2 linked regions of the Homo sapiens genome follow. The protein of the gene in region 2 interacts with the protein of the main gene of each other region in a biochemical or structural test. Each region holds a gene or a part of one and is shown on either strand. Other genes may lie near its edges.

Region 1 (15,091 bases), on a different chromosome or scaffold from region 2:
GAGCCTAGTGACCAGCACATGGTAAGTACTCTCTAAATGGTAGTTGCTGTTAGTGTTGCTGTTGTTATGGCCATCAGGAGGATAGGAGGATTTTTCATTTTCCAAACAATGTGAGCTAAGAGGGACTAAAGGACATGGACATGACCTGTATCTCCTGCTGTGTGGATATCAGTATCTGCAGCTCTGTGTCTCAGAAACGGCCCATACCTTCCGTTCCAAGTGCTTATCCAGGCGGGCCAGAGCTTCTGTCTCTCCTCCCTGCCAGACAGCTGGACCAAGTCCTTCAGTGGGGAACCCTGAAGAGAAGGAAAGGTCACAAGACAGGAGGTTTGACCATTTCAGTGATAGCCCGGCACGGCTGTTCTGTTATTTGAACTTTATGAGAATTGAACCACAGTGTCTCGGTGCTACTGGGGGTTAGATAATCCTTAAAGTTTTAGCGTTTTCTAGGTCAACTTGGTTCTCTTCCCACAGTCACTATTTTCTCTGCTTTCCCCTGCACCCTCATCGCTCCAGGTAGATGACAACAATCCCGGACCTCCTGCCTTTTCAGATTAGCTGGCAACAACTGTGGTTTTCAGGTGAAAAAGGCTAATAGCTTTGTTCAGATCAAAAGACTGGAGGTGTGGCTCACGTCTGTAATCCCAGCACTTTGGGAGGCCGATGTGGGTGGATCACTCGAGGTCACCAGTTCAAGACCAGCCTGGCCAACATGGTGAAACCCCGTCTCTACTAAAAATACAAATATTAGCTGGGCGTGATGGCAGGCGCCTGTAGTCCCAGCTACTCAGGAGGCTGGGGCAGCAGAATTGCTTGAACCCGGGAGGTGGAGGTTGCAGTGAGCCAAGACTGTGCCACTGCACTCCAGACTGGGCAACAGAGCCAGACTCCGTCTAAAAAAGAAAAAAAAAAGGTAAGAAAGAGGGAGGGGTGAAAGAGTGTAGTTAGTAATCTGAGAGGCTGACAGATTCCCTGCTTTCAACAGAAGCAATACTAGCTATCTTGTTACTGAGAAGCCCATGGACACCAGCACCAGGCAGTGCCTGTATTGTCTGCGAGAGGTTAGTACAAAAATAGAGGCATGATCTAGAACCAGAAACAGAAGATTACATGTATGAGTATGAACAGAACAAATACTAGAAGGACACAGTTTAAAATTAATTGTGGTTACCTCTGGGTGGTGGAGTAATAGTGACTGCCATTTCCATTTTTGTTTTCCTGTGCTTTCTAACCTTTCTATAATGACATGCATTACTTTCACAAAGAATTTCTTTACACAAAAGCAGGCACCAGCACAAGTGGCTCTGGGCAGGAAGTACGCACCCAGCTCCTCCAGGGAGGGCACGCCGTAGGTCTCGTCGTGGTTCTCCTGGATCTCGGCCCTGCAGCTCTCCATCTGCTGGCTGGTCACCAAGCCCACTGGCTTCTTGGGCAGCTCCATGCGGCTGATGATGGCCTGAAAGCGCTTGTATGTAAGGGGTGGCTTCTGCCCATTCAGCTCAATGATCCTGGGGAGCCCAAAGCATAGCTAGTGTTACCCACATGGCCCTGTGATGTGGGTCCCTGCCCACCCAAAAAAGAACCCAGACTCTGAAGGCTTTGAGGGTGGCTTTCCTCATCCACTCACAGGTCCCATGCCTGAGTGGAAAGGAGGGGGCAAGGGAGGCCGCATCTCCATTTTACCGAGAGGGAAAATAAAGCCCAGAGAGCTGAAGCAGGTGCCTCAGTAATGGAGCAAGGCAGGGCCAGAGCTGGGACTCAATTCCGGGCTCCCTGGTGTTGACGCAGAGCCGCCTAAAGACAGAGACTGACAAAATCTCTAATCACAGAAAAATCCCTACTAGCCTGCTTGGCACTTGGCCTATCTGTCCAAGCTAAGGGAATCCCCATAGGCCTCTACCACCCATGTAAGCCCTGGAGAAAGTTCTTTGATAAGAGCTGAAGACATGTTTTTTTTTTTTTTTTTTTTAACTCTAACATCATAAGGAATAGCAGACATGTTCCTTTCTTGGAAAATCATCCCCTTCTTAGCCTCCATTTATTAGAACATTGAACAGAGAGGTGGAAGACAGCTTATCCTCCCAAATTCAGAGACTGGAGCTAGAGTTCATAGCCACAACTGATACTTAAAGAGAGTCTTGTAGTTTACAAAGTATTTTTCATGACCAGGGAAAACATAACTGCACTCATGCAAGAAGGAAGGAGTATCAGAGGGCGAAGAAGAGAACGGAGGCTGTTTATATAAGGATGAATTGGGATGGTATGGAGCCACATTCCCGGGGCTCTTCTTGGCCAAGAAGTAGCTTACGCAAGGCCCATCTGGCTGGGTGAGTTCATTTCTCAGTTTGCTCTCCCCACGTTAGTGGAGATATATGGTCGGCTGCTGCCTCTGCTATGCCTCCCTCTCCTCTGGCACGCAGCAGGAGGAGGATCTCCACACCCAGCCTCTCCTCCTGAGGGCCCGGCTCACGTGCACAGCTGTGTGACCTGGCTTCTTGGCAGCCAGCACTGGGTTGGGAAGTGGGGGTGGGGAGCGGCGGCGGCTGCTGGCTTGGCAGCAGCAGCAACAGCAGCAGCAGCAGCAGGAGGGTGACAGCTCTGGCATGGCAGGGAAGGGGAGGAGAGGATTTCCTCCTAGAATCTCTGAAAGCACAGAGGCTGTCACCAGGGGAGGAGGCTCCTCTGTAGTTAGCAGCTCCCTGCAGGGATCTCTAGAGCCCTCCCCGCCACCAAGCAACATGGCCTGGAAACCCAGATAGTCATAGAACCTGGGAACTCTTTTTTTTTTTTTTTTGACACAGGATCTTGCTCTGTCACCCAGGCTGGAGTGACGTGGCATGATCACAGCTCATGGCAGCCTCAAGCCCCTGGGCTCAAGTGATCCTCCAACCTCAGCCTCTTCAGTAATTGGGACTACAGGCATGTCCCACCATGCATGGCTAATATATTTATTTTTAGTAGAGACGGGGGTCTCACTATGTTGCCCAGGCTGATCTTGAACTCATGGACTCATGTGATCCTCTCAAAGTGCTGGGATTACAGGCATGAGCCAGCATGCCCAGCCTAGGAACTCATCTTAGGTACAAAAACTGGACCTGTGTGAACAGAGGTCTGTTGGAGGGGTAACAGACAGGGTCCACTGAGGTCAGAGGGCAGCTGTTGAGCAGGATGGAAGTGGGAATATGAGGCACAGGTGGGACTCGGGCATACTAGGAGCAGATTTGTAAATACCCTGAGTGTGGGTCCTCACTGCTTCCATGCTTTGGGCCTAACAAGCCTCTCTGCCACCTCAATGGGGTAAAGCTCTTTGTGACCTGTTCTACAGGTCCTGACTCTGGCCTATTCTCCTCCAGCTTCTAGAAGATGCCATGCCTCCTGGGTCAGGTAGCCCTAATGCTGAACCTCTCTGAGTTCCGCTCAGCAGGGGCCCAAATTACTAACTCTCACAATTGGTAACCTGATCCCTGGGCCCCATCTCTTACCTGTCCAGGTCATAGAGGGTATGAGAATTCTCCGTCACTACTTCCACACCAGCCTCCTTGGCCATCTTCATGATGGCTGCATCCCGTTCTTTCCCAAAGGGTTCAGAGTCATATTCAAAGGTCAAGCGGGTCACTCCCCATTCCTGTGGGGAGAGGATCTGTTATGCTCAACACTGTGTTTGGGGAGGAGGGGGAAGCTGGACTCTCAGTTCCTTCCTGGGAGAGAACAGAGCTAGTCTAGAGACCTATCTGATGGGCAGCAGAAAAAACTAGGAACAGGGATTTGATCTGGAAAGCAAACAAGCTGAGGTTCAGAAAGTTTGAGGAGGGCAGGCAGTGTGGCGAAGCCAACAGCACAGCAACAGTGGAGTTGGGAGAGAGGTAGGCAGCCTTGTGCACTTGCTGTGTCCTTGAGGTAGGAGAATGCAGCAGGAGGCCATAAATACAACGCTCCTGGGAAACCCCCAGTCCCAGAGAGTGGCACTGACTCACAGGTGGGACAGGACCACAGCCTTCTGCCTGCTCAGCAAGCTTTTCCCAGAGCTCCTCACAGCCCTGCAGACTTGTGGCCTAGTTTTCTTGGCAGAGTTGTGCTATGTGAAGTGTCTTAATTGTTTCCACAGCAACACTCCTGAGGCCAATAGCAAACAGAGCTAATAGGTTCCAGCCCTGAGAGAGTCAGGAAAGGGGAAGCGATCCTTAGTCTGGAGGTCAGAGGAAACTGACCAGAGGGGCTACATGTTGAAAAGGAGGAAGTTCTTTCCTAAGCCTTTAGTCATTTCTGGTAGGAATTTCTAGATCTCATAGCAAGCTGGCCCAGTGAATGGTTGTACAGTCAACCCACAGAAAGCCCTAGAGCATGCAACTTGCAAGAAGAAAAACACATTCTCCAAAGTCTCTGGTCATAGTCTCTGAAAGCTCTGAACCACAGGGGCAAATGTCCTAGCCATGCACAGGCTGGTCTGGTCCTGACTCAGCCCTGCCCGGGGACTGGGTCCTTAGCAGGGCCAGTTATCCCTCATTCGAGGATATCAGCATTAAACATTGATTGAGCCCTTGCTATATGCCAGGTACCATGCTTATAGTTCATATAGGTTACATCACTGAATACTCATTGTAACCTGTGAATAACAATATTATTAAATTACATTTTCTCCAAGAAGCCTTCTTGACCTCCTCCTTCAATATAATTCTTCTGCACCTTGTCTTTTTTCCACTGCAGCATGTATTATATGACAATGATACACTTGCCTGTTTCCCCTATTAGTGTGAACTCTCAGAGCAGAAACCATGTTGTCTCACTCATCATCATTACCCTTATACCTAGTATGGGGCCTAGTACCTAGCAGAAGCTCAATAAAAATACATTACATGACTGAATGGATGACCTAGCTATATCTCTGGGATATAAGTGGGTTGGCCTCTGAGTTGCTGGGGGAGAAAAAGGGCAATGTCGAGGGGAGAAGGGAGGCAAATGTATTTATATGGTATGGTGGGTAAGGATACAGCTCTAGAGTCAGAATCCAAGATCGTCACTTATTAACTTCACAACCAATGACTGTTTCCTCTCCTGTAAATCGGGATAGCAGTAGCCACCTCTTAGGCCTGCTGTGAGGAAGAACTCAGTTGATGTAAACAAGCACTGGGAACAGCGCTTGACTCATAGGCAGCCCTCAATGAATGTGGGCAATTACTAGCACTGTGTGATTTGTACATGTATGCACAATTATGTGTGGGGTTACGGGGAGGGGAATTGAAGGATGATGTATTCACTAAGCTGTTTGCCTTGACATGACTTTTCCTTTTGTCTCGGAGTTAGGGTGGGGAGGGGCATGACAATCATTGTGTGCTGCTGAGGGTGATGGCAGTCTGTCCCACAGCCCTCTGTCCATGAGTTCCTGTGCTTCTATGTGGGCCTTAGAATATACTTTTTAAAGGGATTGAGGGAAAAGTGGACTGGCCCCGTTACTGCAAACAGAAACCTATGTGGCACCAAAATGAAGATTTCTATCAATCATTTACCCCATGGGAAACAAGAAAGCTTCCTCAGAAAGGCTGACCTTTTTTTTTTTTTTTTTGAGACGGAGTCTCGCTCTGTTGCCCAGGCTGGAGTGCAGTGGCACAATCTCGGCTCACTGAAAGCTCCGCCTCCCGGGTTCACACCATTCTCCTGCCTCAGCCTCTCGAGTAGCTGGGACTACAGGTGCCAGCCAACATGCCCAGCTAATTTTTTGTATTTTTAGTAGAGACGGGGTTTCACCATGTTAGCCAGGATGGCCTGGATCTCCTGACCTCGTGATCCGCCTGCCTCGGCCTCCCAAAGTGCTGGGATTACAGGCGTGAGCCACCTCGCCCGGCAGAAAAGGCTGACTTTTCCCAATAAGCAGAGCAAAGCAAGATGGGAAATGTACCTTGCTAGACATGAAACCCCACCTCAAAGTCTTGGCCTAGAAGGAACCCTAATAAATCTGGCTGGCTTGAGCCAAGAAAACATTGAAGGAAGCCAGTGGCATCCAGAGTGGAATGACTTACCACATCCTATGTCTGGACTGAGCTGAGAGCTTTCCAACAAGACACTGGTTTCCCAGAATTTTTTTCCTTAACACAGTTTCCATTCCAAGAGCAAGCTAACTGGCTGCCTTTGCTCCCAACTTCTCTAGCAGCAACAGCCAGACCAGCCCTGATGTTTCCATTCCCTCAGTCGGAATATCATATCACTCAGGCTGTGGGGAAACCGTCAGGGACAGAATCTCACTGTCTTCTCTGGGGCTCTGCACGCTTACCTTGAACAGCCTTGGGAACACGTCGGCTGGCTGTCCCCGGACTACAAACAGGCGGGAGTTCAGTTTCCTTAAACTTGTGTCCAAATCTTCCAGAGACTGAAGTAGGAACCTGTGGAGTCCACACAGGCCTTGTTAGTGATAACATCATGAAGAGTGGCTCTCTTTCCTAACAAAGCAGGGAGAAACTGGTTCGCTGTTTATGCCCAACAGGCAGCCTCATGATCACTAGGGCTGGAGAGGCCTGGGTTCCAGCCCAGGAGGGATGTGGTAGTGGATCAGCGCTGCTCTGCTTCAAACCCTGGTCTTGCCACTTACTAGCTGTGTGACTTTAGGCAATAACCTAACCTCTTTGCCTGTTTTCTCGCCGGTAATGTGAAGCTGATGTTAGTACCCATCTCATAAAATTGCTAAGAAAAGAAAATCGAATAATGTGTGAAAAACATTTAGCACTGTGCCTGGCACACAGACATCATGAGATAAATGTGAGCTGTTCCTAGTGTGGTGTTTCTGTGTGATCAGAGGCTAGTCACTTACTCCCTCGCAGTCTCTGGGGCTAGATATAAGTATCTGCCCAGCATGAGGTTGTTGTGAGACTCACGTGGGAGCCATCTGAAAAGCCAGTGCAATACTGTGGTATGAAGCATTAAGGTCCTCTTAGCAGAGGACCAGACTGCCACAGCCGGGAAAATCCTCCTTACTCTGGTGGAAAAGACTCCTTGACTTTCTGCATGCATGCTCTGGGCCATGCGTATTTCTGCTGCCACAGCCTCACAGCCTGCAATGGGTCCCTAGTTCCCAGAGCTTTGTTTGGCAGGTGGCTCACTCTCCAGGCCTCTCCAGGGCTCTGGTGATCAGGTTCTCATCCCAAGAGGGAGAAGGCCTTAAAAGGTACTTCTCAATAGCTATCTTCACATTTTTGTGGGGGTGGGGGTGGGGAAGACCGCAGCTAGGCAAGAACTTCAGCAGGAGACCTGGATCACCAGGGGAAAGGGAAAGGACATTAACATTTGCTGAGTGCCTTCAGCGTTTTATTTTTAAATTAAATTAACATTATAACCAGATAAACTATTCATGTGGCTCAAAATTCCAGTGACAAAGTGGTACATAGTAGAAAGGGTTTTCCCCTCCCTCACTCCCCAGAGGCAACCAAGGTTATCAATGGGATTTTGGTTCTGTCATGCTTTTTAAGTGCATTTCTGCATTTAATTCTCTCAACTATTTTGAAGGAAATAGTACCATCCTTATTTTATAGATGAGGAAACTGAGACACTCAGAGGTGAATTAATTTGTCTAAGACCATAGCTGTTAAGTGACAAAGCTGGGGATTCAGGAACCTAGGGTGGTCACTCTGAAACCCACATTTTCCTCTCTGTGCCCTTTTTTATTTATTTATTTACTTTTTGAGACAGAGTCTCGCTCTGTCGCCCAGGCTGGAGTGCAGTGGCGTAATCTCGGCTCACTGCAACCTCCCCAACCCAGGTTCAAGCGATTCTCCTGCCTCAGCTTTCCGAGTAGCTGGGGTTATAGGTATGTGCACCACACCCAATTAATTTTTTAAACAATATTTTTAGTAGAGATGGGGTTTCACCATGTTGGCCAGGTTGGTCTTGAACTCCTGACCTCAAGTGATCCGCCCTCCTCAGCCATCCAAAGTGCTGGGATTACAGGCGTGAGCCACCGTGAGGGTTCTGTGCCCCATTTCTAAAGATTTCTAGTTGCACACCAACTCTGTTCCAGGGGCTGAGATTCTGCAGGCCCTCAGGAGTTTGGAATCCTGTTCTCTAATAGCAATGTGACTACAGGTAATCCACTGGCATTCTTATCTTCTTCTTCAAGAACCCACAGGTCAATCTGCATATGTCACAGATACCTCTGAGGCACCTGCTATCTACCCCTTGGGTCTCCACCCATCCCCAGCATTTTTCTCTGTCAACAATAGAAATGGCACATCACAGTCACATTCCCTGACTACTGGAGGCTTACAGAAGCAGTGACTATTCCCAGGCTGCCAACTAGAACCAGCCCCCACTGCTGCCTCTGACGTACACAACTTGACACACTCCTACGGCCAATGCCACCGACCCACATTCTAGCATGGGCTGAGCCCTGGCCTCGGCTCAAAGCATCATGTTTGCAAAAGAGCATGAGGAAGACTCTCTGAGAGGTTGGGATGGAAGACAAACAGGTTGAATGCTGCTTTATGCAAACCAAAAGCTCCACCTCTGTGAATTTCTGTTTTTGAAAAATTGTCACCTCCAGAAAAGGAACAGGGAGCTGCAAGTGCGTCACTTGTGTTGGCCTCCCCCAAGCCTCACCACTCTTCTGGAAGGAAAAGAAGAGAAATCCATGCAAATGGTCTCATGCCATCTGAAACCTGGACCCTGCCAGGTAGAATGCCTAGGGCTAGGAGCAGTGATTTAAATTTCATAACCCCAGGACACAGGGTCCTCCATCTGCAGCTCCCAGGAGTGTCCTTGCCATGCGCTTTGGGGGTCTTTTCCTTCACAGTCCACCAGGCTGCATAGGACTTTGATTTGAAGCTATAAATAAGGTTGGAATGCACATGAAATCTAGGTTCCAGAACATGTAGCAATCTGCCTTCTATAGAACTTTATTTTTAGACCTCATTTACTAAAAGGAGAGATTCCTCGTAGCATCTCTAAAGTACAGCTAATCCTATGAGAGCCCTTTTCTTCTTTCACAAAAGATGTTTATAGCAGGAAGCAGAGATGTGAGGCTGGTAGAAGGCCCAACTCTGAACCCAGCAACTAAATAAAAATAATGATAATAATGGCAATGATTAACATTTAATAAGCATTTACAATGACAGGCACTATTCTACTTGTTTCACATACATTACCTCATTTAATTCTCAAACAGCCCAATCAAGTAGGTAATATTATTATTCCCATTTTATAGATGAGGGAACTGAGGCATAGAGAGATTATGAAACTTGCCCAACATCATATACCTAGTAAGTGGCCAGAATTCAAACCTAGGCAATCTGTCAGGCTTGACATGTTCGTTTTTAGCCAGCCACTGCCTCTCAACAAACAGAGCACTGAGGCTGTGCTGCCCTGGGCTCAGCCATTAGGGAGCACCACAGGCCAACTCAAAGGCCAGCAACACCTCTGCTGCCAGATCTTTCCTCCTCTGAGTGTGGTCTGACAATCAGCAGCATTGGCTGTGAAACACCCAGGAGTCTGTTGAAATGCAGAATCTCAGGCTCTAACCCAGACCTCCAAAATTAGAATCTGTATTTTAGCAAGATCCCCTGGTGATTCATTTGCATATTAAAGTTTCACAAGCACTACTCTAGAAAACTGAACTTTACTTCTAGTCTCTGTTACAAGTTGCCTTTCTTTGCTTCTAGTTTGTTTGTACTAAACTTTCTCTCTTGAGCATCCATATTTCTGCCTCCCCTTTGGCCTGCTAGAAATGCTCTGCTTCTTCCAACTTCCCTCCCGAGTCAACCCGGGAAGGGAGGGCTCAGGACAGCCACCACACGGAGGCAATAGACAGGGATGTGAGGAGGGTCCCCAGTATCTCCAGACTCCAGGCAGCCAGAGAATGCAGAGAATGAGAAGCCACCACTAGGGTACTACCTTTGAGGCCTGCCAGGTGACAGCTGTCCCTCACATTTGGAGCAGTGCTGCGACTGGGCAAAGGCTCAGTGGGCAGGTATATGCATTCTTTCACCAGAGAGAACCTTGGGCCTTCTGTGGTCCCTTAGAACCCTCCTCTTTACTCCAATTTCTCTTTACTCCAATGAGGGGACTCTGAAGGAAACTGGCCTGGGCATTGGAGATGGTGGTGTTGGGGGCTGGCACTTCACCCTTGGCAGCTCTTAGCTGAGCTCACATGGCCAAAATTCAGAGCACATGGTCCTGGGAGAGCAAAGCTTACCCTTTGGATTAGACAACATGTGCAACTGAATTACATTATTATGTAAGTGCTCTGGAGCCAGAGGCAGGCAGAACTGGAGAAAACCAGACTGGGATTTCCAAAAATATAGAGAGGACACTATAACTCAGGGACTCTACAAGGCTAGCCTTTTAGAATAAAACAAGCAGATCCTTTGATTAAGTACTCATATTTAGGGAAGGCCTTCTCTAGGAATGGCTGATCCTGTGTTGAGGAATATTTTATTTATTTGTTGTTAATGGGGGGAGGGAGGATAACAGTGAATTCTTTTGGGTCCAGGCTGTCCTTGACCAAGTTCCTCTGCTTCAAGGCAAGGTTATCTAACAACGATGATGATACCACTGGCTGGCACAGATTGGCTACATAGGATATTAATAGAAATTAATTTTTCCTAAGTAATTAAGAGAGCTTAAGCCCCATGGAAAAGGATAACCTAAACTCACAATCTCTGGCAGGGATTTATTTCTAAGTATCTGAGTGATATTTAGAAATACTTAAATATTAAATTCTTATTATTTTAAAAATATATTTATTCTTTCCTAATTTCAAAGAGAAAGATGAAGGTTTTTATCCCCTTTGGGCAAACAGAAACATTTCCTTGGCAGCAGAACAGTAAAGTGCCTCTCTCAGGTACCAATGTGAATAGCTCAGAGAAGCTCCTGTTTCCCTGCCAGTAGACTAGCGTTCTCAATCCACTTCCCAACAGTCCAACAGTGTTCAGCTCTCAGCATCTGGGAAGAGAGACACACTTGTTCTCATGGGGCATCCTGGGAAGTTCCCAGTTTACCTCATTTACCAATTCTAAGAGAAATGGGCTGAGAGGGAACATATTTTATTTCTACAAATTCCCTCTGTCCCAGAAGCTCCTGAAAGAGGCGCAGCACAGAGCCAGGGACAAAATGATTTAAATAAAGTGGAAGAGGAACTGTTGCTAACACCTATCCAAGTTGCAGTGGGGAGAGAAAGGTAATGAAAAACCACAGAGGTCATTTTAAAATCTAGGAACTGCTCACATCTTCCTTTAGTTTATCTTCTTGCTGCAGTACCTCCTTCTAGATGTAGCAAATCTGGGGAAGGTGAGGCTGGGGAAAATGTGAAAGGGCTTAGCCAAGTAGCACTTGGAAAAAAAAAAAAAAAGTCCTGAGGCTCATATAGCTACAATTAGCCCGTAAACTTCCCACCATCACCAGGGCAAGAAGTATGCTAGGCTTCTTCTTGCTAATCAATATGTGTATTTCTTGGTTGCATTTCTCTGTCCGTTTTTACTCTTAGTGCCATTCATAGTTATTTTAATCTGATTTCCTCTGCAGAAAAACATTGTGTGGGAGTCAGTGTAGAAGGAGCAGGAGGGAAACAGAGTCACAGATTTTGGGTCCTCCCCTCCTTGCAGATGGTCCCTTGCCCTTCCCAGGGAGGCTTCTCAGAGACAACTTAAGCAGTTGCAGAGCTAGGACATTATGCTGCAGCACAATTCTCTTAGACCACTCTTGGAATCCAGAAACAACCACGGGACGATTACACATACTACAGTCATGTCAAGATATGGCTGGCTCCAGCCCTCCCCTCTATCCCCAACTTTGTGCACAAAAGAGAATGCAGCTCTGCCTTCAACTGATCCAGGAAGCAAGCAGAATGGTGGAGGTGGTAGGAGTGTGTCTGTTTCCAGGCCCAGGAGCAGTTATTATATTCAATCTGTTTGTGTTACTTCATCTCTTTCTTCTGAATGCCAACATTAATTAGACTTCCTGCCAATGCACTGCAACATACTTCCTAGGTTGCCCGTCTCAGGACTGAGGTTCTCTAGTCCAGTGCTTCTTAAGCTTTGCTGCAATAAGAGCTTTAAAAACCTTAATGCCCAAGGCCGGGCACAGTGGCTCATACTTGCAATCACAGCACTTCGGGAGGTTGACGCAGGTGATTGCTTAAGCCCATGAGTTCAAGACCAGCCTGGAGAACATGGTGAAACCCCATCTCTACAAAAAATACAAAAATTAGCCAGGCATGGTGGTGCATGCCTGCAGTCCCAGCTACTTGGGAGGCTAAGGCAGGAGGATCGCTGAGCCCAGGAGGTCAAGGCTGCAGTGAGCTATGATCATGCCACTGCATTTCAGCTTGGGTTGTCACTTGAGCAGGACCCCGTCTCAAAAAAAAAAAAAAACAAAAAACAAAACAAAACAAAAAATCCCCAAACCTTAATGCCCAGGCCATAACCCAGAACAATTCTAACAGAACTGGGAGAAAGGGGCTGGGCACAGTGGCTCATGCCCTGTAATCCCAGCAGTTTGGGAGACCAAGGTGGGCAGATCACCTGAGGTCAGGAGTTTGAGACCAGCCTAGCCAACATGGTGAAACCCTGTCTCTACTAAAAATACAAAATAATTAGCCAGGTGTGGCGATGGCCACCTGTAATCCTGGCTACTTGGGAGACTGAGGCAGGAGAATTGCTTGAACCCGGGAGGTGGAGGTTGCAGTGAGTCCAGACTGCGCCATTGTACTCTAGCCTGGGCAACAAGAACAAAACTCCGTCTCAAAAAAAAAAAAAAATAGAATTGGGGGAAAGGGGCCCAGGTATCTTTTAAAGACCCTTATGGGATTCCAATGCACAGCAGCCAAGATTGAGAACCACTGCTCTAGTCTGTCCCCTTATCTTATGTTTCTCATGGCACTTCGTTTCACTAAATTATGGTTGTTTGTTGGTAAAATGTAGGCTCCAGGAGTTCTGGAGCACAGACACATCTGCTTATTCACTGCTGTATCCCTAGCAACATCTAGAGCAGTACCTGGCAGATATTAGGCACTTATTAAGTGATCAATTAATATCTGCATTCTTACACAGCCTCTGACTTCAGGATTTGACTCAGGCATCTGAGCCACATTCCTTTTCTTCTTCACTAGATTGATAGCACGATCACAAAATGATGACCCACAAAAATCCATAAACACCTGGTTCCTAGCAAACTGGAGTTTAATCAACAGGAATTTTATTGTTGATTTTTAATCTTCCCTATCAAAAAAGAGTAGGCAGTACTATGCAATGTCCCCCAAAACCCAATAAAAGAAGAAACTCTGTGACAATGTAACAAGAAGGTAGTCGGATTCCATTTGCCTGGCTCCGACTGGTGCAGGGCAAAGTCTGAGGCTTGGCTTAATGTGCACACTAGGGATGGTCATTTGATGATGCTTGTCAAACCCAACCTCCTATCTGTAGAAAACTGGAGCAGAGACAGAGCAATAAGGCAGCCTGAAAACTGTGGGCAGGCTCTCCACAGGACTCCTTAGTTGTTCCTTCTGGGCAGGAGGGGACACTGAACAGGCCCACTGCTAGCAGCACTCACTCTCTTAGCAGGGCACACACCTTGGAGAGAAAAGAATGGTGTGCCGAGAGCCACGGTATCCTGGAAATAACCCTGTCCATCGATGCAACAAGGCCACAAGCAAACATTCCCCAGAACAATGCAAACAAACCGAGCGACTGCCACTAGGTGTTCTGAAGAGCGATGGGTACATTATGTCTCAAAACTCTTTAGTTTGAATACTGTTTACAGTGAAAATACACTAACGACCTGTTCATCTTTTTCCATGATCATGTCGACTCCATCTCCTGGGGGGTCATCAGAGGGGCCCTTGATATCATGGCTTTCCTGCTCCCTAACCTTACCACAACAGTTCATAAAAGTCTCATCTCTAATGGCTCTACTGTCCTCTAAAATCATGACAAGAGGATGACGGGGTGACACTTTGGATTCTTTTAAATTTTTCTATCGAGGTCAAAGCTCCAGAGCAGGGCTTAAAACATTTTGGAGAATCCCCTGGATTCTCTGGAGCTTTGAACATAAAGCGACTCCACCTGAAGACGCCTTTGGCTTCTTTATTTATAATATAGGGGAGAAGACCTTATTTAATGCTAAGCCAGGGTCACTTGACACCCCTAGAGGCAGGACGGTCTGGGTGCAGGGTAGCCAGGATGGGTGGTAGGGCGGATTCAAACGAGCCAGAGGCTTCGGAGTGATCTCCCCGAGCCCAGCAACGGGCTCTTGAAGAATGCGAGCAAAAACCCGTCCCGCCCTCACACTACGTTATCTCCCTTCCGCCCCTCCCTGAGTAGACCGTAAGAGCCCTAGACCAGGAGCCCCTGTTCTGCCACTCACTGGCTACAAGTCCTTGGGCAGGTCGACTTTGGGTCTCCAGGGCTCAAGGGTCTCATCTGTACAACGGGGATCATGATCTCCGTTCCACAGGCAGTTGTGAGGCTCAAAGGGGTAACAGTGCGAACGCGCTTTGTCAGAGGCTGAACCCTGGCCCACCGGCGCGTTAGGACCATGACGAATTACTTCCCCGGTCTCGGCTTCTCCCCTCTGGCCTTCCAGCCGTGGCGGGGTTGGGGGGATCGTGCTGTTCGCCGGTCACCCCAGGGTCAGGGTCCTGGCTGCGTCCCCGCCACCCAGCCCCGGGTCCCCTCACCTCCATCGGTTGATCCCGACTGAGGAGGAGGCCGCGAACCACGGGTCGAGAATGTAAACGCAGCGCACGCAGCGCGCCCCGCGCACGGCCGCCAGCAACGCCGGGTTGTCGTGGAGTCGCAGCCCTTTGCGGAACCAGTGCACCGAAGAGGCGCTGTCCGTGCCGGGCGCTGGCGCCGGGGCCACAGCTGCCGCCGTCGCCACAGTCGCCGCCATGACTGTCCAGACTGCTCCAGCCACCCCCGCTCCGCCCCGGTAGGCGACGTGGACCCCGCCCATAGCCCGCCCAGTGACCTATGACGCCGCAACTCCACCCTTAGTCCCCGCCCACAGGGCCCCAGAGCCCCTCTGCCATTGGCTGAGTGCCTTCCACCTGGCGATTGGCCCAGAGGCGCCGGAACAGGCCCGCCCCCTCACGTTCCTACCATGTGTGGGTCCGCCC
Region 2 (14,480 bases):
GTGTCTGACTCACTGAGTTAGAATGAAATGTTAATGCGTGTAAACTCTTAGAACAGAGCCAAGGGGCCGGGCATGGAAAATCACCCTGCTGCTCTTCGACTCATCTGAGATGGGTGCCCACCCTGCCCCTCCTGGTCCCCTCAGGTTTTAACTGCTTCCACCCATTTTCCAGTGTCCAAATTCCTCAACCTGTTTCCCCCCATCCGCTGGACCACGGAGATGAGAGCCATGGGAGGGTGTGGGCAGAGGGAACCATGGGCCCAGTTTCTCCATCTGTGGTGCTGGCCGGGAGGGGAGGGGTGGTGGCCTCTGTCCCTCTGGCTGCCAAGCAACTGACACCCCCCACAGGTGGGAGGCAGGGGCCCCACCCGGTGCTATGGAGGTTAGGTCATCTTTCTGCCTTCCCTGGTGGCCAGAGCTTGGGTCTGTGATCTAATCATGGCCATTGACAGATGGGGGTGGGGAAAGACAGCGTGAAAGGGTCCAAGAGAACGACAGGGAGACAGAACTCGGGTCCTTCCTGCCTTGGAGTCTCTGTTCCATCCAGCTGGGCAGATGCCTGGGTCCATCCTGGTCGATGGGGTGGGGAGCACCTAAGACCCCCGCTCCCCCCGGTTCTCTGGTCTTCCCTTCACAGCTTCCTTTGTCAGTGGCGAGGCTTCTTAGGACCCCTAATTCATGTCCATGACTCCTGGGAGTCCACATCTGCTCCTGCCAGACCCTGAGACTCCCCAGCAGCCTCTGACACCATTGCTTAGTGTCCACACCTGCCCCCAGCCCCCAGCATCTCCCCCACCTCCGTGTGCCTGGCACGTCCCCAGCGTGATGACCCTGATCCAAACTGTAACTAGAGTGGTGTCCCCTATTTTAGCAGACTCCTGTGCTCAAGCGATCCACATGACTCGGCCTCCCCAAGTGCTGGGATCACAGGCGTGAGCCCCCGTGCCCGGCCAGCCCTGGATGTTCATCACCTGCGTCTATGGGCATCTCTCCGTCACACTCCCTTTTGGAAGTTACTGTTTCTTTTTGGTCAATTCATTGCCTCTAACTTCAGAGCCCTACTCACGTGTATTTATCCCCCTTGATTCCCCAAAACTTATCGGCTTACCCAGACCTTCCCCCATTAAATGCTTTCCCTCCCTCCCATGGCCCTTCCGTTTTCCCGAGCCCAGCTCTGTGGCGTTGATCTGCTCAAAGTTTTGGTACTTGTGGTGGGTGTGCCTGAGTCTCTTTGTTCTGACTTTACTGAGACATTGATCGCCGTAAAGGTCCCATCTCTTGCAGCATCTTCTGAATTTCTCTTCTCGTTTAAAAACTTCCTCCAATATCCACTTGGAAAAAGATAAAATTAGATCCATTCCTCACATCACATACAAGAAGGAACTCCAAATAGACTGGAGATCTTGACATAAAGAAGAAAACTGTACAAAAACCAGAAGAAACCCGAGGGAACTTCCCTGAAACCCGGGTGTAGGGAGAAGTACTGACTCCCACGCCAGCACAATTAAAGAAATACTGATACATTTGGCTTCATAAAAATAAACTTGTACTGTGGCAACAAACCACAAGTGAAGTCTAAAGATAAAAGACAGTCTGGGATATATACTTTCAAATGGTTAAGGTGGTACAGTTTATGTTATGTGCTTTTTACCACAATTTAACAAAAAAGGACAGAATGGGGGAAAATGATCTGCAACATACATCACGAGCATGGGGCCTCTGCTGTGTCCCCTCCGCAGCACTCCCTCTGGAGAACCCAGCCAGACCCGACAGGGAGGAGACGGCAGCCAGTCAGGGAGCACTCTTCAGACACGGGGAGCGGGAGGAACGTGATCATCACAAACGTCCATGTCAAAGACAAAGCGGGGCTGAGGAAATGTTCCAGATTGAAGGAAATGAAAGAGACAATTGAATGTGTGGCAGGACATTGCTGAGGCAAGAGCTACAGCTGGAATGCAGTTGGTTGACTTAAATATAAACATTTAATGCTCCCTTGAGGGACCCTGCTGCCACGTTGAGAGAAGCTCAGGCCACATGGAAGCCACACGCAGGCGTTCCAGTGCCAGCCCAGCTAACAGCCCACAGCAACTGCCGTCACGGGAGTGAGCCCCCACGGAGTCCAGCCGGGCGAGTCTTCAGATGCCTCCAGCCCCAAATGCCCCCGACCACAAATGCCTCAGCCCTCAGGTGCGCCCTGCACGGCCAAGCCCAGCCAATCACAGAACTGAGGAAGACAGCAAGGCATTCGTTGTTGAAGCTGAGGGGGTGGGGGGGGTTAGGGTGTTTGTTATGCAGCTGTGCAGCATGGCTGCAGCCCTGACGGAAGAAAAGGCTGGCTCCTGGGAGGTCACCGGAGAGCCCTCGGTGTGTCCTACCTCATAGGAGCGTCTCTTTATCTGGGGCCCTGGGCCACAGTGGACAGTCTATGCTAAGGATGTGATTTAGGGTGGGGGCCGTGGGTCTCTCTGGAGGCTACGGTCAGCCACGCGGGGTGAGCAGTCCCCATGACCAACCCCTGAAGAAAACCTTGGATGCAGAGGCCCGGGTGAGCTTCCCTAGGTGGCCACACTCCAGCACGCTGTCGCATCCATGCGGGGAAAATAAGCGCTGTCCACACAGCTCCACGGGAGAGGGCAGTGGGACGCTTGCGCCTGCCTCTTCCCTCCTCTCATTCTCATCCCCATATTCTTGCTATAATAGGCCCTCACTGTGAGGATAATGACCATACCGGGTCCTGGGAGACCTCCTGAACTGCAGCGGCAGGGAACCCCGACACCCAGTGAGTCTGAGAGCCTCACAGCTGCCCGCCTGGCTGACTCCCATCAGGTCTGAAGCACCCTCCCGACAGTCATGGTGGCTGTTTTTGTCTTTCCCAGGAGAAATGAATGGCACTGGCAACCTGGGCCTCGTGCCTGTTTTCCTGAAGCCATGTGTACTTGGCTTCTGGACCGTGGCGCACCTGACCCCAGAAGGCGGTGCACTTACTGTAAGGCTGATGGGCCTTAGAGAACACCTCCCCAGCGCCTACGCGCAATCAGGACCGCGGACGCCTCATGTCTGCCTGGGAGGTCTCCAAAGGGCCAAACACTCCCGGACTCGGCCCTGCAGGAGTCATTTGCTGTAGACCATCCCCCAGTGCCACATACCACTGGAGAAAGCTGAGTCCAGAGGAGCTCAAACTTGAAAACACAATCTCTCTGGAGGGTCAAGGCCTGGCAGGGCAGCCTGAATGGAATCCAACGTTACCTGTGACTAAGAGCCAACTGGGAGTGAGACAAGGGTCCTCTGGTCTCCCTGGATGACGGGAGATGCGCGCCTCATCGTGTGATGTCAAGAACCACTGCTGGGCCTACCCTGAGCAGGGAGCAGGGAGCGGCACTGTCATGCTTGTTGCTGGAGCCAGCAAAGGATGAGGCTATGCCTCAGCTTCCGCTCCGCTCCACTCAGTGCTGGCCTCATCGCCCCACCCAGGGGGCAGAACTCTCCCCAGGAGCCCACGGTGCTGGGCAGAGGCAGAGGCCACTTGGGCGGTCAGCCCAGAGCTGGGTGGGCCCGGCCAGCGGGACTTTGCGGCCTCCCCACCCTCCGGATCTCCTGAGCAGGCGTAACCCAACCCGGGCAGCTCCTTCGGCTCCACCATCCAGAGACAAGCTGACTTCCGATAATGACTTTATTTTAACATATTTAATTACAGACATAAAATAGCTGGGGAGGGGGGTGAGCCCCAGCCTAGCCCCACCATGGGGCTATAGGAGGGGAGGCGCAGGCGGGGCCCCCCTGCTGACCCTCTCTCTGGGGGTCTTCCTATGGCGGGGCCCTATTGCTTGAGTGGGGGAGGAGCCATGCAAATGAGGGGGGCAGGGCAGCCACTCGGCCCCACCCCACCCCGAGGACGGCCTCCCCACAGAATGCCCAGGCTGTGCCCCCAGCCCCAGCTGCTCCACCTCCTTCCTCTCTGTCCAGGGAGCAGACCCTCTGGCCAGCCCCTGACTCTGCCCCTACCCCCTCTGCAAACCTAAAGGGGAATAAATACAAACTTTACAAAGTAAAAGGGGGTCCAACATTGCCCTGGGGCGGGGCCTGCTCTGCCCCTAGCCCAGGGCCTGGGTCCGGTGGGATTGGAGGGGCCCTGGGATGCAGGCCGCCCCGCCCGTCACCTCACATCATTCCTAGCTGCAGCAGCGTGTTGGCATAGGCCATGGGCTTGACGTTGGGATGAGGCTGTGGGACCAGGGCAGGTGGGATGGACAGAAGTCAGAACAGAGCCCCTGAGCACCCACCGGCAGAACCTACCCCTGCCCCTTACCAGGGTCTCAGCCTCCTTGTCCCCAGGCCGGGATGGAAGGGGCAGGGGCCCTGAGGGGTGACTCACCACTGCTGTGAACTGGTGGAACTGAGGCCGTAGGTCAGAGCCCTGGAGGTGGATGTAGGAGGCTTTGTTCCCCATCTGGTCGCTGCAGGGACAGGAGCAGAGTGGACAGTGTGGTCAGGGCTGGGTGGGGCTGGTGGGTTAAGAGAAGGAATGGCTGGGCAAGAAGGGACAGAGGGAGAGGGAGGGACAGAGCCACAACAGACACAGATGGACAGAGAGACAGAGATGGGAAAGACGAATCCAGGGGAAAGAATGGGAGGGGCAGGAGGATGGGGATGGGGAAAAGAGGGTGGGAGTGCAGGAAGCAGGAGCAGGAAGGGGCAGGGCATAGCTCATGGAGGTGGATGCTCGCCAGACCCCACTAGGAATCTGACCACGCTTCTAGCTTTGCCCACCCAGAGATGCAGGGAACAGAGGAACATGTCACACGGCACCACGGGGATGCAGTCAGCCTAGTCCAGGACACAGGTGACTCGTACAGCAGGCAGCAACCTATTCTTCAACAAATAAATGATGCGGGTGGGGAGAGACAGGGAACTCACAGGCAAAGAGACTGAAAATGTGGTCCTTGTTTAGGTCCTGTCTGGAAGAAGTCAGCTGGAAAAGACACTTAGGAGAGACCAGGAGAAAGAGAACTTGGCAGGATTCGGGTGGGGGCAAGGGATCAACACTGTGTGTGTGTGTGTGTGTGTGTGTGTGTGTGTGTGTGTGTGTGTGTGTGTGTGTGTGTGTGTGTGTGTGTGTGTGTGTGTGTGTGTGTGTGTGTGTGTTTTGAGATGGAGTCTTACTCTTGCCCGTGTGCGTGTGTTTTGAGATGGAGTCTTACTCTTCCCCAGGCTGGAGTGCAGTGGTGCAATCTCAGCTCACTGCAACCTCTACCTCCCGGGTTCGAACAATTCTCCTGACTCAGCCTCCTGAGTAGCTGGGATTACGGGTGTGTGCCACCACGCCCTGCTAATTTTTGTATTTTTAGTAGAGATGGGGTTTCACCATGTTGGCCAGGCTGGTCTCAAACTCCTGACCTCAGGTGATCCGCCCACCTCGGCCTCCCAAAGTGCTGGGATTATAGGCGTGAGCCACCATGCCCAGCCAGCACTCAAAAGTGTAAACACGATATTGTGGTTAAGAAAAAGATCCCTTTCCTTCTGAAAAGTGCTGGGCAATCAGTGGGAGAAAGGTGAAGTGCCAGGGGCTTGCTGTAACACAGGGCAGCTGGTCAGCACTCACAGGCTGGCCCCACTGGTGCTGCATGGGTGGGTGACACATACGGGGGTGTTCGTCATGTTCTTTTATCTGCTCTTGCCTGTCTTTGAAATGTTCCATCATAAAAAGGCAAAACAAAAACCAAGACAAAAACCCGTGGCTTGGTAGAGGCCCTGGGCTGGAAAGGCAAAGACATACCAGTAGTTGGGGGCAGAGAAGACGGTGACACAGCGGCCTCCGTGAGCCACCTCGTAGCCCTCGGCCTTGACTTCGTGGCTGCGGATGATATAGTCCAGGTTGTTCTCTTCCAAGAAGGCCTTGGTGACGTCAGGCCCAAACTGACAGCTCACGCCCCGCTTGCTGATCGAGCGCCCGTTCTGAGGGTGGGCAGAAGGGAGAGACAGGGGTTCAGGGTGACTGTCTGCCTCCACCTGCTGCCACAGCCCACACCCGCCGGCCCTGCACCCCACCCTAGACTCACCTGTGGCTGTGGATCTGACCAGAGCAGGTCACACATGGGCCCTGGTGGGGAGCGAGGGAAACATTAGGGACTCGTCCACCTCCCCGGGGGTGGTCACTCACAGGCCACCTCCTGGCCCGGCCAGGTGCTGACCCCACAGCCCAGCCTGGGTGGGTGTTGGGCAGGGGACATCCAGCATGGACATGGACATTCAGGACAGGTGACTGTGATTCTGAGCCACCCCCACCCTCTCTGCTGATCTGCCCTCCAGACCCCATTCAATCCCCTGTGGCCCCGAAGCCAGATAGAGCTTTCAATGTCACTATTCAGATCAGGCCCCTCTCCCACTCAAAGCCTTTGGTGGCTCCGCACTGCCCTAGGAACAAAGTTCCTCACTGGGGCCTGTAAAGCGCCATAGGATTTGGGCCCAGTGAACCCCATGTCCAATGTCAGCCCTCAAAGCACAGCCCTGCCCACTCGCCAACTTCTCCCTGCCTTAGGACCCCTCCTCAAGCCTGGAATATGCTCGCCAGGCTCTGTGCACGGCAGATGCCTCTGCTTCCCGCAGTGTCAGCTCAAACCTCGCCTCCCTGGAGAGGCCTTCCTGAGCACCCAGCACCAGCCCACCCAATCCATGTCCTCTGCAGCACTCACAGTGTGCACGTGCGTGTGCACCTGTGGGTGAACTCTCTGAAGTGTGCCCGTCACTAGCACAGGAGCCCCAAGACCTCCCCTCCTTCCAGGGTTCCACAGCTGAACTCACAAATAAATAAGGACAGGTGTGCTCGGCGGTCACCGTGCCTTCACCCCGCACCATGGTCACGACCGTGCTTGCCATCACAGCCCCATGAAGGAGGTGCACTGGCCCAAGTCGCAGGTGAGGAAACTGAGGCTCAGACCCGCTGTTTCTTGCCAAGGGCACAAAGCCCATCCTCCGAGGCAGGGCTGGGTTGCAGGGGAGAGCTCAGCCCAGGCTGCCCCTTTCTGCTGGAGACACCTGGCCCCGCGCTGCTCACCTGAATCTGGGGGTTGTCGATTCCGCTCAATTTTCCGGATGTCATCCAGGGTGACACCGTCTTCACTGAACAGGCCTCCGTGCATGATCTGGGGAGATGGGGGATGCCGCTGTGAGGGAAGGTGCCACCCACCCACAGGCCCCAACTTCCTTCACCAGCACATCTGCCCAGGTGTGGCTGGGTGGGGAACCCACACTCAGGGCTCGCGCCGTCCTCACCAGCACTTTGCCGTTGATGCACTGGGCCAACGGGAGCCACTCGAACACCTCGCTAAAGAGCTCGTACATCTGGGCTGTGTACTTGGCCTTCACCTCACCCTCGAAACCGTAGATCTGGTTCATGTTGTCTGTCTCGTGGTTGCCTGGCCAACACGGGGACAGAAGAGAAAGCTCAGCCTCCAGGTACATCAGTGTCCTCCAGCCTGGCACCCTCAAGGCCCAGAACTGTGCATGCGTCCCTTGCCCCCATGGGCCTCGCACTTGCCACTGCGGTGCCTTCCAGACTGGAGGTACCAAGGGGGGAATCTTGACAAAAAGTAGGTCCATGGCTAAGCACCATGGCTCACGCCTATAATTCCAGCACTTTGGGAAGCCAAGGCAGAACTGCTTGAGCCCAGCAATTTGAGACCAGCCTGGGCAATATACTGAGACCTCTCTATAAAACAATTTTAAAAATTAGCTGGGCATGGTGGTGCGTGCCTATAGTGCCAGCTACTTGGGAGGCTGAGGCCAGAGGATCACTTGAGCCCACGAAGCAGAGGCTGCAGTGAGCTATGCTCATGCTACTGCACTCCAGCCTGGGCAACAGAGCAAAGCAAGACCGTCTCAAAACCAAAAAGTAGGCCCATCTACAGAACATGTGCCCCAGCCCACCCCACCCTGAGCTCCATCCTTCTGTCTCAGACACAAGCACCCGGCCTCCTTCTTCCCTTCCAGAGCTTGGGGGCAAGGAGAAGGCTGCCCAGTCTCGCATCTGCTCAGACTCTGCTTGTCTGACTTCTCGGCCTGAGCACTTGTTGCCTCCTGCAACGAGGCCCACAGTCGGGCTTCCTGAGCTTTGACCCTGTGCTGGACACTGCTGCGTGAACCCTGTGAGCCCAGGGACACGGGCATGCAGGCTTCGCCCCAGCCTATCACTCACCTCCCAACTCACCCCGGCCCCGCCATGGGCAGGGCCTCCCCTGTGTGGCCCTCACATCCCAGTGAGCTCCTCTTGTCTAATCTCATCTGGACACCAAGAAACCTACATTTTCAACACCCCTTGGAACCCCACCCACATCCCATGTCTCCTGAGTCTCAGCCACATCCAAAGGGGAGCTCCTCAGCTCCTGGCCACACCCTGCTCTACATGTTCCCGTCTTCGTCACTGGCAGCCATAGCCCTCCAGATACTCCGGCCAAAACCCTAGAGGGCCCCTTTCGTTCCCTCTTTGTCTCACACCTGTGTCTGTTCCTCCAGCAAATACTCTGGGCTCTACTTCCAAGTTTCTTACTTTTTTTTTTTTTTTCAAAGAGACAGGGTCTTGCTCTGTTGCCCACGCTGGAGTGCAGCGGTGTGATCATGGCTCACTGCAGCCTTACACTCCTGGGCTCAAGCAATCCTTCCACTTTGGCCACCCAAGAAGCTGGGACTACGGGTGCACGGTGCCACCATGCCTGGCTTTTTTTTTTTTTTTTAGACTGAGTCTCACTCTATCGACTAGGCTGGAGTGCAGTGGCGCAATCTCGGCTCATTGCAACATGTGCCTCCTGGGTTCAAGCGATTCTCCTGCCTCAGCCTCCCAGGCAGCTGGGATTACAGGCGTGTACCACCATGCCCGGCTAATTTTTGTATTTTTAGTAGAGACGGGGTTTCACCACATTGGACAGGCTGGTTTCGAACTCTTGACCTCAGATGATCCACCTGCCTTGGCCTCCCAAAATGCTGGGATTACAGGCATGAGCCACTGCGCCTGGCCTTTTTAAAAAATGTTTACTGGAGACAAAGTCTCACTGTGTTGCCCAGGCTGGTCTCAAACTCCTGGGCTGAAGTGATCCTCCTACCTGGGCCTTCCAAAGTGCTGGGATTACAGGTGTGAACCAGCACACTCAGCTCCGGGCTCTACTTCAATCAAGAGAACCCAAATCTGACACCAAGCCTGAATCTGAGGGGGCACAACTGCCTCGTCAACAGTCTCCTTACTCCCACCCTCGAGCCCTGGTCTGTTCACTCAGTCACTCAGCTTTAGTGCCAGATTTAGGGCCACCCAGGAGCCTGTTTCATGCCCTTGTGCAAATTAGAATAAGGGGCCCATCCTCACACCCTTGTTTGCCATCTGCTGAAAAATGGTCAGAGTAAACATCCATTTCTACACTATCTATGATGTAAACGCGTCCTTTGGTGTGATGCTTTTGTGCAGTGCACTACATACTCAATCTTAAAAGGTCGCCCTGTGCATGATCTCCGAGTCCACAAAATAAATACAGCTGCAACTATTATCCTTGCAGAGTGAGTGCCCCACTCAGGACCCCACAATGAACCCAAACCTTGTCACTTCCCAGCTCACCTCGAAGGAGGTGAAAGTGATCTGGGTACAGGAGCTTGAAGCCGAAAAGGGTGAGGATCACTTCTACAGAGAAGGAGCCTCGGTCCACAAAGTCACCATTAAATATCTGTCCTGCTGAGGAAAACATGGCAAGCGTGGAGGGGAAGGGTGCGGTGCGGTGGGGTTGGGGGTGGTGGCAGAAGATGGGCCAGATGGGCTGCTCCTGCCTGGCCTCAAGCCTCCTGTCAGCACCTCCCAGGGAGTGAGGACTTGGCAGGGCTCAAGGGATCTGGGTTTCTAATCCTTTCCTCACCGTGGCTCCAGCCAGAGCTTGGCCGCTGAGCCTCAGTAGTATGGCACTGAGGACCCTGCCTCCTGTCTCCCGGAAAGCCAGTGGCGGGGAGGTGCGGGGACTAGTCAGTCCACCTCCTTCAGCTCTCCTCAGAGAGGCCTGGAGCCATGGGGGAGATGGGACACGGGCCCTCCCACTCAACAATGCATAGGCCTAGTGGCCCTACAAGTGGCCGTTCATCGAGCAGATACCATAACACGGGGAAATACTTAGATAGCATCAGGTGTGGGCCAGGCCCTGTTCTTAACCTGTCCTCTCAGTAACTGCTGAGTAACAAGGTTGCACATATTATTATCCCTCTTTGCAAATGGGGAAACTGTGACACCAAGCAGTGAAGTAACCTGCTTCGGTCACACAGCTGGGAAGTGGCAAAGCCAGGATGGAACCCAAGTGTGGCCAGTGCCAGGTGCCATTCAAATGTGATCCTGAGGCAGACGAAGACAAGCCAAGACCCAGAGAGACTGAGCTACCAGCTTAGGTCACACAGCAGGTGGGTGCTGGCCCAGGCCTGTCCGAGCCTGGAGCCTGGGGTGCATGGCCAGCCTGCAGCTCCACCCACACCTTGGTGCCCCAGCATGGCCAGGCCTCTCCTTTCCAAGGTCACGTCTTTTCCTGGCAAGGGCTCCTCCCACTCTGTGCAGACCTGAGGCTGCGGCTGGGGGTGGAGGTGGGGAGAGGGTGGCTCTGCTGAGAAGGATACATAGGGGTTGGTCTCCGAGGGTAAACCGTTGAGCTCGAATATGTTGAGGAGGTCATAGAACTGGCCATGGGTGTCCCCACATACTGTAATCTTCTCTGTCTGAAAGAAAAGAGGCCACCGGAGAGGGACGGGCCGAGAGAGAGACGTGGGGAGGGGGCAGAGGTGAGGGGAAGGGTAAGAGTTCACAGTAGACCAAGAAGAATCATGCAAGAGACACAAGCAGGGAACACAAACGAAGACCAAGAGGCCAGGAGAGAAATGGGATATTCAGGAGGAAAGGCACAGGGGTGGGGTGTGAGGGAGAGAGGGAGGTGGATCCGTGAGTTCCTGAGCTCTGTGGCCCCTCCCCAGCCAGAGAGCCCACCCCCGCTGGCCCTCCCCGCACTGCCCCACAACGCGCACCTCTTTGAGTGTGGTTTCCACGAGCGTGCTCAGCTTGGAGAGGACCTCTTTGACCTGTACCAGAATCTGGAAGGCAGGGCAGACTCAGTGGGACCGGCTGCAGGGGCTGCTGCCCAACCTGGCCCCGAAAGCCTGGACTGCCCATGAGACGCTGCTGGGCTGAGGGCGAGGGAGAAGCAGGGAGAGAAGAAAAAGGGCAGGGCAGGCCTGGGGGAGCGGGAGCAGGCGGGGCCGGAGGCAGCCGCAGGCTTCTGTGGCCTGTGCAGTGCCGAAGCATTGCGATTGTTTTGTACGAAAACCTGATTCTTGAATTATCTTAAAATACTCAGCATCAAGTGGAAATACATGCATGAATCCAGATCGTAGAACATTTTATAAAAGAACTGGCCTGGACACAGCGCAATGTCACTGTCATAAAAGAGTCTCCCAAAAAAGAAGTGAGACTTTCTAGGTAAAAAGAGGTAAAAAGGCAGGTCATAGGCAACACTGGTGCTTTCAACGGACGCTGAATTTTTTAAAAGCAGCTAAAAAGGATGTTTTGGGGAGAGCTGGGGAGAATTAAAATACTAATAGATGTCTAGAAATGCAGATGATTTATTTTTCACAGATTGGATATGACCTTGACAATGACATGCATATTTGTCAATGTTTCCAGATTTTCCGGATGGCCTGTGGACTGTCTACCTTAGTCAGTATTATCACATCAATGATGAATTTCTAAGGTAGGACAATTCAACTGTGGTCACACAAGAGGACGTCTTTGTTTTTGGGAGATCCAGGTTATGATGGCTGCAACTTACTTTCAAATGGGTTAGGGGAAAAAAAAGAAAAAAGTATACACATACAAATGCATAAATAAGTAGACAGACACATAAAGTTAATGCATTAAAATGTTCACAAGTGGTGAATCTGTGTGAAGGGTGGACAGATGTTAACTGTACTGTTCTTTCAGCTCTCTGTAGGTCTGACGATTTCCAAAATAAGCTGGGGAAAAAGGTGTTAAGAAAATGCAGGCGGCATCCACTTCTAGTCAGAAGGTAGAAAAGTTACAAAAGACTGTCTCGCCCTAAAGATGAAAACAAGCCAAACAAGCAACAAAATCAAAGGTAAAGCCATCTGAGAGCTGGCAATGCAAAGGGACCTAAATTAATCAAAATGCAGACAGGACGAGCCCTTCCTTGGGGAAGGAGCCCACAGCTTTCACCCTGGTGCGAGGCAGCAGGGCGGGATGCCCTGCGTGAGGGGAAATGAGTGGAAGTTCATGACCGTGTGGGGACTGGCGTGACAGATGAGGACTCCAGGGAGCCCCAGCACAGCCCGCCTCTGCCCCCTGCCAACTCCCTCACACGGGCTTCATGGAAGGTTGGGCGCGAGGGAGTGAGGTGCAGAGAAACCTCCTGAGGTACAGAAGTGGGGGCGAGACTGGAGAGCGGAGAGCACCCCAGTGGCCCCACAGTCTGGCGGCAGGGCTGAATACCAGAGGCCTCCCACAGTTCCAAAAGCTGGCGACTTTAAAACATAAAGACATCCCTGGAATTCTGCCAGGGCTAAGATCCCAAGCTCTGCTGAAGGGAAAGTCCTAATTCTACTCTGAACACATTTAAAGCCGGTGGTAAAGAAACTCCAATAAAAGCTGCCCCTAAACTACAGATGAGGTTCACACAGCCCCTCCCTCTTGTGGCTCAACAGGAGAAATGTGTGCCATTTTCTTATTTGTTTATTTGTTTTAAGACAGGGTCTCACTCTGTCACCCAGGCTGGAGTGCAGTGGCTCGAACACAGTTCACTGCAGCCTCAACCTCCCAGGTTCAGGTGATCCTCCCCACTCAGCCTCCCAAGTAGCTAGGACTACAGGTGCCAACCACCATGCCTGGCTAATTTTTGTATTTTTTTTGTAGAGGTGGGGTTTCTACAAGTTGCCCAGGCTGGTCTTGAACTACTGGGCTCAAGCGATCTGCCCACCTTGGCCTCCCAAAGTGCTAGGATTACAGGCCTGAGCCATGGTGCCCAGCCTAAGTGTGCCATTTTCTGAGGAAAAACTTTATTTACCTCAGTCTCTAATGTTCTTTTATACAAAATAGCTGGCATACAATAAAATTGTAAAACACATGAAGAACTGGTAACAGAGCAGACTCAGAGATGAACCAGATGATGGAACTATCAGACAGAGACGTTAAGATAACCATGGTAAATGTGTGAAAGGACTTGGTGGAAAAGGTGGACAACATGCATGAACACATGAGACACAGAGATGAAAAGTCTATTAAAAAAAACACAACTAAATGAAAATGCTACCAATAAAAAATACAATGTAAGAAATAAATAATTCATTTGTTGGGCTTGACAGCAGTTACAAAGAATCAGTGAACATAAGGACAACTGAAATTATCTGAACTGAAATACATAGAGGAAAAATCGTGAAAAGAATTAAAAAAATTCAGGTCATTAAGATCTAAGGAATAGTATCAAATAGTATCAAAGAGCATGTTATTAGCTTTCCAGACGGAGAGGAGAGCAGAAATGGGAAGAAATATAAGAAATAATGGCTAAGAACTTTCCAAAACTAATGAAAGATATTAACCCACAGACTCAAAAAAAGCACATCAAAGCCCATCATAGTCAAACTACTAAAACCCAAAGGCAACATCTTAAAACCAGTGAAGAAAAAAGCAGACTATATAGAACAAAGATATGAATGATTGCTGAGTTCTCACAGAAACAATGGAGGTCAAAAGGCAATGGGAAAAAAACACATTTAAAGCCTTGAAAGAAACAATGTCAACCTAGAACTCTACATCCAGCAAAGACACCCCTAAAAATGAAGACAAAATAAAAACATTTTCAGGCAGACCAAAGCTGAGAGAATTAGTCTACAGCAGACGTGCACTGTAAGAAATGCTAAAAGTACTCAGGCAGAAGGGGCATGATACCAGATAGAAACTCACATATGGAAGAAGAAACAAGGAGTAAGAGAAAGGGTAAATATAAAAGACATTTTCTGTGTATTCATACGTGTATTTCTTTAGAAGACTAGTGTCTATTTAAGGAAATGACAACAATGTATTTATAGCAGATGCATAAGCATGACAAGAGCACAAAGGCTGGGAGAAAATAAAAGCAATCACAATATTGTAAGATTCTTTTTTTTTTTTTCTTTTGAGATGGAGTCTCGCTCTGTTGCCCAGGCTGGAGTGCAGTGGCACGACCTTGGCTCACTGCAACCTCCACCTCCTGGGTTCAAGTGATTCTTCTGCCTCAGCCTCTCGAGCAGCTGGGATTAGAAGTGTGTGCCACCATGCCTGGCTAATTTTTGTATTTTTAGTAGAGACAGGGTTGTAGAGATGGGGTTTTTGCCATGTTGACCAGGCTAGTCTGGAACTCCTGACCCCAAGTGATTCACCTGCCTCGGCCTCCGAAACTGCTGGGATTACAGGCATGAGCCACTGCCCCAGG

The links.
Region 1: the proteins of PPP5C (region 2) and CRY2 form a complex in vitro, tested with the Homo sapiens proteins (one study listed by BioGRID).

What each region holds. Positions count from the first base shown.
Region 1 is NC_000011.10:45,847,265-45,862,355, reverse strand, and holds the start of CRY2 (cryptochrome-2), read right to left. Parts: upstream 14,882-15,091; 5' UTR 14,866-14,881; coding exon 14,651-14,865; intron 6,375-14,650; coding exon 6,266-6,374; intron 3,626-6,265; coding exon 3,483-3,625; intron 1,509-3,482; coding exon 1,324-1,508; intron 297-1,323; coding exon 208-296; intron 1-207. UniProt on the Homo sapiens protein: Transcriptional repressor which forms a core component of the circadian clock.
Region 2 is NC_000019.10:46,380,025-46,394,504, reverse strand, and holds the end of PPP5C (serine/threonine-protein phosphatase 5), read right to left. Parts: exon of another isoform or gene 11,981-14,480; intron 11,095-11,980; coding exon 11,029-11,094; intron 10,726-11,028; coding exon 10,627-10,725; intron 9,702-10,626; coding exon 9,596-9,701; intron 7,413-9,595; coding exon 7,270-7,412; intron 7,140-7,269; coding exon 7,052-7,139; intron 6,098-7,051; coding exon 6,057-6,097; intron 5,953-6,056; coding exon 5,774-5,952; intron 4,455-5,773; coding exon 4,373-4,454; intron 4,222-4,372; coding exon 4,159-4,221; 3' UTR 3,530-4,158; downstream 1-3,529. UniProt on the Homo sapiens protein: Serine/threonine-protein phosphatase that dephosphorylates a myriad of proteins involved in different signaling pathways including the kinases CSNK1E, ASK1/MAP3K5, PRKDC and RAF1, the nuclear receptors NR3C1, PPARG, ESR1 and ESR2, SMAD proteins and TAU/MAPT.